Homo sapiens: one gene and its partner. The protein of the gene in region 1 interacts with the protein of each later gene in a pairwise test. Each region holds a gene or a part of one and is shown in the gene's direction. Other genes may lie near its edges. The genes, in order: EMC9 and SCN5A.

Region 1 (4,526 bases):
CACAGAGGTTGAAGGGCTATCTTCTCCATTGGGTTTATAGTCCAAGTCCTTCACCCTGAGTGCCTAGGGTGGGGATTGTTACATGCCATGGCAGCCATGCAGATAACCTGTATTTTGGAATGTAACAGTATTATTTTCATCCAGAGGTCTCAGGAATTATTGGAAGAGATGGCATTTGCACAGAGCCCTTATGGGAATAATCAGGCTTTGGATACACAAGGGGAAAGTTCTGTGGTCAACATCAGGAATGAAGAAAGAAAGAATCCTCATCAGTTCAGGAAAAGCCTAGAAGGAGAATAAGGTTTCACTGGGAGAACTATGGAGAACTACGGATGAATGATTGGACTCCCCCCACCCTTTTTTTTTTTTTTTTGAGATGGAGTCTTGCTCTGTTGCCCAGGCTGGAGTGCAATGGCACGATCTCAGCTTACTGCTACCTCCGTCTCCCGGGTTCAAGCAATTCTCCTGCCTCAGCCTCCCGAGTAGCTGGAATTACAGGCATGTGCCACCACACCTGGCTAATTTTTTTGTATTTTTAATAGAGACGGGGTTTCGCCATGTTGGCCAGGCTGGTCTCGAACTCCTGACCTCAGGCGATCCACCCACCTCGGCCTCCCAAAGTGCTGGGATTACAAGGCGTGAGCCACCGCGCCGGGCCTGGACTCCCTCCTTAAGGGCTAGGAGGGGAAAAAATAATGCTTCCAAGGCACTGTGGTGAAGGAAATACATCGCAGGACATTATGGGAAGGATGAATCTGTAAGTTTTTCTTACTGTCCTCCCCCATATCCCCTTCAGCCAATCACTGTCTTTATCTCTGCTTTTCAAGATTCAGCCCTGGGCTGGTGATAGAGACAAGGGTTCCTTTGCTGTGATCTTGCTGTAAACTCCATGGGATTGTTCTTTAATTCAGGGCCTTATCCTGTCATAAAATATGAGATAAGAATGTGCTGCGAAGCACTAGACTGGCTGGAAGCCTGCCCCCATACATATCTCATTAAATCCTTAAAGGAACACGGGCAAAAGATAAACCAAGGGCAAGAAAACCTGCAGTCGCGAAGGCAACACGGCCCATTAGTAAGTGACAGAGCCGATCTAGAGTACAGAGCCACTCAACCCATAATAGGCGCAAGGCGGTCTGCTTTGCCCGCAGCGCTCCGGAACACCCGGCTACGGGATAGCGATCCATCCTTGGGGCTCGGCGGAGCGAGTGGTAGTGGGCAACACAGGTAACAGGCAAAGCCAACCACCAACCGAGAGCGGAAGTCGGGGAACCTAGCCAATAAGAGTGCGGGCAATTTTCTGTGCTTCACAATGGTGGGTTCTTTCCAGTCCGCTGGAGACAAAGGCGGGGCAACGTTGGGGCGCGGCCGCTGATTGGACAAATTGAAAGCCTTTAGCCCTATCAAGGAGCACCACGTGGGCGGGACTCCAGGAGCCAGTTCTGCAGGGAGCTGCAGTTTGGTCTGTCTCCCAGGCAGGCGCAGAGTCGCGGCCGCCAGCTAGGGGCGCGGGAAGGCGGGGCTCGGATGCAATCGGGACCTCCTCCTGGACTGGGCCGGGGGCGGACTCCGGGACCCAGGGCGCCGGGAGCCGGCGGGCTACCTGCGAGTCGAGTTAGCGTTGTCGCCGAACCGAAGTGAGAGGGCACGGGGAAGGGTCAAAGAGCGTGCCGAAGCGCTGGAGGGAGCTTCACGGACGCGAGCTAGGCACCGGCTCGCCTAATCCGGTACTAATCCGGCTTGCTGCTTCCCGTCCAGGCCTCGCTCGCCATGGGGGAGGTGGAGATCTCGGCCCTGGCCTACGTGAAGATGTGCCTGCATGCTGCCCGGTACCCACACGCCGCAGTCAACGGGCTGTTTTTGGCGCCAGCGCCGCGGTCTGGAGAATGCCTGTGCCTCACCGACTGTGTGCCCCTCTTCCACAGCCACCTGGCCCTGTCCGTCATGTTGGAGGTCGCCCTCAACCAGGTGCCTCCGTTGGATGCCCATCCCCCACCGCGAACCCACCCAACACCCCAGCCCAAGTTCATCCCCGGTCCCTTGGCAGCAGTGCGCATCCACAAAGCCAGCGGCACAATTTAATTACTGATGGCCCCTTTCCTACGACAGGTGGATGTGTGGGGAGCACAGGCCGGTCTGGTGGTGGCTGGTTACTACCATGCCAATGCAGCTGTGAACGATCAGAGGTGAGTGGCGTAGCCAGAGGAAGAAGGAAAGGATTATGGCGGGTTGGGGATTGGAGGAATAGAGGGCGAGGATGCGTGGGGCGGTGGGCGGGGCGGGGGCGCACAAGATGAACCAAGGTCGTTCCTTTTATCTTTCCTTCATCAAACGCTTAGGAGCAGGGGCTTTACACCAGGCACTATGCTGGGTACTGGAGTGAGGGAATATAAAGATGAATAGGACAGAGCCCTGCCCTGGAGTGCCGTTGGGGCGGGGAGGACAACTGTGTATCAACAGACTGATTTTTTTTTTTTTTTTGAGACGGAGTCTCCCTCTGTCTCCCAGGCTGGAGTGCAGTGGCGCAATCTCGGCTCACTGGAACTTCCACCTCCTAGATTCAAGCGATTCTCCTGCCTCAGCCTCCCGAGTAGCTGGGATCACAGATGAGCGCCACCATGCCCGGCTAATTTTTTTTATTTTTTTAATTTATTATTATTTTTTATTTTTAGTAGAGATGGGGTTTCGCCATGTTGGCCAGGCTGGTCTAGAACTTGACCTCAGGTGATCCACGCGCCTCGGACTCCCAAAGTGCTGGGATTACAGGCGTGAGCCACCACTCTCGGCCAACAGACTGATCTTGCTTTAACTGAGGTGTCCCCCAGGGGCTGAAAGAACAGAGAAATCCCAACCAGCAACTTCAAAAATAAGGCAGTTTCCTTATATATATACATATAGGAAAAGACATATATATATATATATATATATTAATCATATACATGGAGCAATTAGAGGTACTGTTTTGTAATTTGCGTTTCTCCCTCACTTAATAAATACTTGACATCATCCCATTTCCACACCAAGATCTACCGTAACAGCTATATAGTCTGAATATGAATGTACTCTAATTTATTTAATACTTTAAACATTGAGGTTGTTTCCAGTGTTTTATTACAGACACTGTCCTATGATTACCATAAATTCTTTATAAGTAGAATTTCTGGGTCAGCATATGTATAGTATGTATACAGTTTCAATTTGGATGGTTATGCCAAATTACCTTCCAAAAAGACCACCTTTGGTTTCCACTCTCACCAGCAATATCTGAGCACCTGTCTCCCACAGCACTCAAGCATCAAGCAGTCGTGCATCAAGCATCCAGCAGGCCCGATCCCCGCAGGCCACCTACAGGGAAAGGCCACAGCTGCGCCCACACCTATGAGACCTGGGAGGCCCAGCTCAAATGGATGGGTTTTGCCCACAGTTGGCTCCTCACTCCTCTGATCTTCCCTCTACACAGCCCTGGGCCCCTGGCCTTGAAAATTGCTGGGCGAATTGCAGAATTCTTCCCTGATGCAGTACTTATTATGGTGAGGCTTGGGTTTCTGGGTGGGGAGGTGAAAAGCAAGTAGGGTGGGGGGACCCTTGAAACTCTCACTTGCCCATCTTTGTCCACTCAGTTGGATAATCAGAAACTGGTGCCTCAGCCTCGTGTGCCCCCGGTCATCGTCCTGGAGAACCAAGGTCTCCGCTGGGTCCCTAAGGATAAGAACTTGTGAGTACCCCACTCCCTCTACCTCTTCTTAGAAGCCCAAGGCTCCTGGGTCTCCTCTGTCCTTGGCCCTGCCCCAAGGGTCTTTCTCTAGACCCAATCTCTGTTAAGTCTGTGTCTGGACCCACTACTTGCTGTTTGACCTCCATGGGGGTTACTATTTCAGAGTGATGTGGAGGGACTGGGAAGAGTCACGGCAGATGGTGGGAGCTCTACTGGAAGATCGGGCCCACCAGCACCTTGTGGACTTTGACTGCCACCTTGATGACATCCGGCAGGACTGGACCAACCAGCGGCTCAACACTCAAATCACCCAGTGGGTTGGTCCCACTAATGGAAATGGAAATGCCTGAGCCAGGGCCAGCGGGGCCCGGTTCCAATAAAGAGACTTGGGCTGATGGGCAGTGGTATAACTATATTTATTGTGCCTGAGAGGCAAGGTGAGGGAAAAATCTCAACAGAAGCAAGTTTGGGGAAAATCTGGAGTCCCCAGTAAAAAGCAGGAAGGTCTCTGCTGTACTCATCACAGAATGGGAGAGAGGGCTCTCAATAGATCATTCCCTTTGTTTCTCCCCTGGGCTTCTTGAGCTTCTCGAAGTTCTTCAGGATGATGTCATATAACACAGCCTACAGGGCCAGGGAGTAGAGGTCAGTCAGAGGCCTCCAGTGGCTCTGTGCCCCATTTCTAGCCTTGTGGAGAAGCTGAGCTTTGTCACCCTTAACCCCTAGCCTGCAGGGTCAGGGAGTGGGTGGCCTGGGAAAGCTGCCTCTGCCCACCCCTGCCCTGCCCTTGCCTCCTCACATAAGCATTGCG
Region 2 (3,810 bases), on another chromosome or scaffold:
GCATGAAAATCCCATCATGCTAGGCCCCTGTACAGTCACAGCCCCCATGGTTGCTCATCTCTGCGCTTCCTGTTTCCCATGGCCTTCCTTAGAGTAGGGGAGCTCTGGGCAGAGGGACAGGGTAGTTTTGGGTGTTGTGATATCCCCAACCTGAGGCCAGTATCCCGGCACTGGAGCCGGGGCTGGGGGACGAGACCCCATGGTATGGGTTGGTAGGAGTTCAAGGACATGCCCATAAGAGTGAGGGTCCATTCCGAGTGCCCCAGGTCCTCCTCAGGCCGGGCCTGTCTGCAACACCAGGAGCCTTCCTGCCTCCTTCTCCCTTGCCCAGCCTGAGCTCTAACTCCAAGCCCAGTTAAGTTTCAGGCTCCCAGCTCCAGAGACATAGATTTGAGGGGAGTAGACATCCCAGAAGATACAGGATTATCTCTAACCCCACATCCCCTCTTCCAAATACCCCCGGCCCAACCCACCTGGTTCCTGTGTGGCCAAAAAAGCCCTCAATGCTCTGAGAAGTTTAGCTGAGGCCAGTGGCACAAAAGACAGGCTGGGAGCACATGAAGAGCACATGTCATGGTCGTGTCCCCTCTCCTCATGCCCTTAGAATCATCTCAGCCTCACCCGTGGCCTCAGCAGGACTTCTATGAAGCCACGTTCCAGCCGCGGGAGCATTTTCACCTTTCGCAGGCGAGACCTGGGTTCTGAAGCAGATTTTGCAGATGATGAAAACAGCACAGCGGGGGAGAGCGAGAGCCACCACACATCACTGCTGGTGCCCTGGCCCCTGCGCCGGACCAGTGCCCAGGGACAGCCCAGTCCCGGAACCTCGGCTCCTGGCCACGCCCTCCATGGCAAAAAGAACAGCACTGTGGACTGCAATGGGGTGGTCTCATTACTGGGGGCAGGCGACCCAGAGGCCACATCCCCAGGAAGCCACCTCCTCCGCCCTGTGATGCTAGAGCACCCGCCAGACACGGTGAGCCAGCCCCGAGATGCAGGCACCACAGCAGGTCTGGTCTCCCAAACTGATCACCAGTGCCAAGTCCAAAAATACACGTCAAATATTTGTTGAGCACCTACTGTGTGCTGGGCTCTAGGTGCATAAACTTACAAAAAAAAAACTGGGCCCTCATAGAGCATCCATGCTAATGGGGACAGACAGACAAAACTCAAAAGAAAGCCAGGTGCGATGGCTCACGCCTGTAATCCCAGCACTTTGGGAGGCCGAGGTGGGGAGATCACCTGAGGTCAGGAGTTCAAGTCCAGCCTGGCCAACATGGTGAAACCCCATCTCTACTAAAAATACAAAAATTAGCCGGGCATGGAGGCGCGTGCCTGTAATCCCAGCTACTTGGGAGGCTGAGACAGGAGAATCACTTGAACTCAGGAGGCAGAGGTTGCAGTGAGCTGAGATCATGCCATTGCATTTCAGCCTGGGCAACAGAGTGAGACTCCATCTCAAAAAAAAAAAAAAAAAATCAAAAAGAAAAAATGTCTATATTGTGTGTAATGGTGATAAAGAGGGATGATAGTTAACTATGTCACAACTAGTAAAGCCTTCATTACCATCATCTGGGGAAGCCTGTTCCAGACACAAGGAACAGCAAATGTGAAGGCCCTGAGGCAGAACTCTGCCTAGCCTGTTGGAGGAGATGCCACGAGGTCAGTGTGGCTGGAACAGAGGGAGCGACGGGGAGAGAAGTTGCAGTGACTGTTACAAAGGTGATAGGAAGGGACTGGCCAGATTGTGAAAGGCCAATCAGAGCTTTGGTCACTTAGTCAGTTCTATGACAGACTGATGGCTGCCCAATCAGCCATCAGGTGTCCTTGCTGACCCCAGGCCCCCAACACAGTGACCAGAGCAGCCCACCCAGGAAAAAGCTGAACATCTGGCTCAACCCCCAAGGCCTGCAGAGCGCACTTGGAGAGGAAGGTAGAACAGATGGGAGGCTTGACCAGGAAGGTGGAGGATGGCCTGAAGATGCAGGGCTCCCAGCCACGTGGCTTATTTTGTGCCACTCAGACTCTCGCTCAATCTGTGGGACTTGGTACAGGTTAATTAATCTCTTTGTGCCTCAATTTCCTCATCTGTAAAGTGAAAATTATACGCCAGCAAGTTGTGGTGAGGACTGAAAGAGTGCAACTAGGTCCAGTGTTGAGACCAATACTTGCCTGGTCTTAGAGCCATTAGTATTATCTGTTATTGGTATTAGTAAGCAGGAAGGAGTGAGGATCCTGGGGTACACTGCAGAATGCCCAGGGCCCCACACTCCTCTGGAGCACAGGGTGAAGGGAGGAAACTGGGCACCCCTGGGGGCAGACCACAGCTTTAGGTAGAGCTGGGGAGGCCCTGGCCCATCTGAAGGGTGGGGTGTCTAGTTTCCAGGAACACTGAACCAGGCAGGTTCAGCCCTGGAGCCTCAGCCTCATGGAATCGGGTCAGCAGCTGGGAGCGCTAATAGAATTTCCTAATCTCATTAAGGAGAAAATCATCTCATTGTACTGCACATGTCGGGAGGAATCCAAGTTCAAGCACTTCATTACCAGGAATTCTGACTTCACCCATTCTCACTTCTGTGGGGCCCATTTGTAACCTTAAAGGGATTAGCAGGCCAAGACAGGGTCATTTGCAAAGTTAAAGGAATTAGCAAACCAAGATGGAGACATTTGAAGAGTCAAAGAGATTAGCAGGCTGCAGGCCCCTGGGAATGCCTTCTGTGCTTCCACTGGGTCCCCAGTGAGACGTTTCTGCCCAGTTCTAGTCTGAAAACAAAGCACAGGGTTGGGCACACTGTGGGTGCCTAATCAACAAGGATGGGAAGGAAGGGCCAGCCCAGCAGACAGCTCACGTTCAGTTTATCCAGATTGGGAGGTAGGGGCTGAAGACTTACTTTGCCCCTTGCTTGTATGAGACTGCCTGGTTCCAAAAGTCCAGATGGAGGTGGGAGAAGCACACTGAATATCCATTCCTTTTCTCCCCCTACATGTTAAATCTTCATCCTCATTTCCTGTGGCCACCTAGCAAGTTAGGAACAGAGCTGGAACTCTAACCCAAGCCTTCCGATTGATTCCCAAGAATTTATCCATCCAACCAATATCTATCTAGTGCCAGCCTGCCATGTGGCGTGCCAGGCAGTGTTGAGACTCCAGGGTTATAGCAGTGAACAAAGAAGGCAAGATCACTGTCTCTTGGAGTTTATACCGTAGTTAGGAAGACAGTAAACTGATCAATATTTTCAGGTAGCAATAAGTCATGTGATAGAAAGCTGCTAAGGGGAGGGATGAGGATGAGGGCTATTAGAATACTCAGGAAAGGCCTTCCCAAGAAGGTAACATTAAAATTGACAGGCAAATGATTTTAGGGAGCCAGCCCTAAAGATGCAGAGGAACAGCGTTCAGGCAGAGGGAATAGCAAGTGCAAAGCCCCTGAGGAGGACACATCCAAGGGATGAGAGGGACTAACAGGGCCAGGTGTGGTGAAACATTAAAATGAATTTCATGAGTTAGGATTTGGACTGTGCAGGGCCTTCTAGACCATAGATAAGTTTGGATATACTGTGTGAGTAAGATGGGGAGGAGTAGGGTGGGAGGAGTTGTTGAACAGAGGAGTGACATTATCTGATTTACTTTTTAAAGGAATCCCTTTCTACTATGCAGAGAATACAGGGATGAGAAGAAGAAAAGAAGCCAGTTAGGAGGCTGTTGCAGTGGTTTTGGGAAAGAGAAGATGACTGCCTGGACTAGGATGGTGTATTAGTCAGCTATTATAATAATAATGCTGTGTAACAAACTACCCCAGAAGTCAATCTC

What was found.
Region 2: the proteins of EMC9 (region 1) and SCN5A interact in binary tests that used the Homo sapiens proteins (3 or more experiments, as listed by UniProt).

What each region holds. Positions count from the first base shown.
Region 1 is NC_000014.9:24,138,549-24,143,074, reverse strand, and holds EMC9 (ER membrane protein complex subunit 9), read left to right. Parts: upstream 1-1,483; 5' UTR 1,484-1,637; exon of another isoform or gene 1,638-1,758; 5' UTR 1,759-1,770; coding exon 1,771-1,968; intron 1,969-2,109; coding exon 2,110-2,186; exon of another isoform or gene 2,187-3,285; coding exon of another isoform or gene 3,286-3,382; exon of another isoform or gene 3,383-3,407; coding exon of another isoform or gene 3,408-3,460; coding exon 3,461-3,530; intron 3,531-3,620; coding exon 3,621-3,715; intron 3,716-3,878; coding exon 3,879-4,065; 3' UTR 4,066-4,110; downstream 4,111-4,526. Other genes in the region: PSME1 (proteasome activator complex subunit 1), read right to left, coding at 4,431-4,526. UniProt on the Homo sapiens protein: Part of the endoplasmic reticulum membrane protein complex (EMC) that enables the energy-independent insertion into endoplasmic reticulum membranes of newly synthesized membrane proteins.
Region 2 is NC_000003.12:38,600,878-38,604,687, reverse strand, and holds part of SCN5A (sodium channel protein type 5 subunit alpha), read left to right. Parts: intron 1-604; coding exon 605-976; intron 977-3,810. UniProt on the Homo sapiens protein: Pore-forming subunit of Nav1.5, a voltage-gated sodium (Nav) channel that directly mediates the depolarizing phase of action potentials in excitable membranes.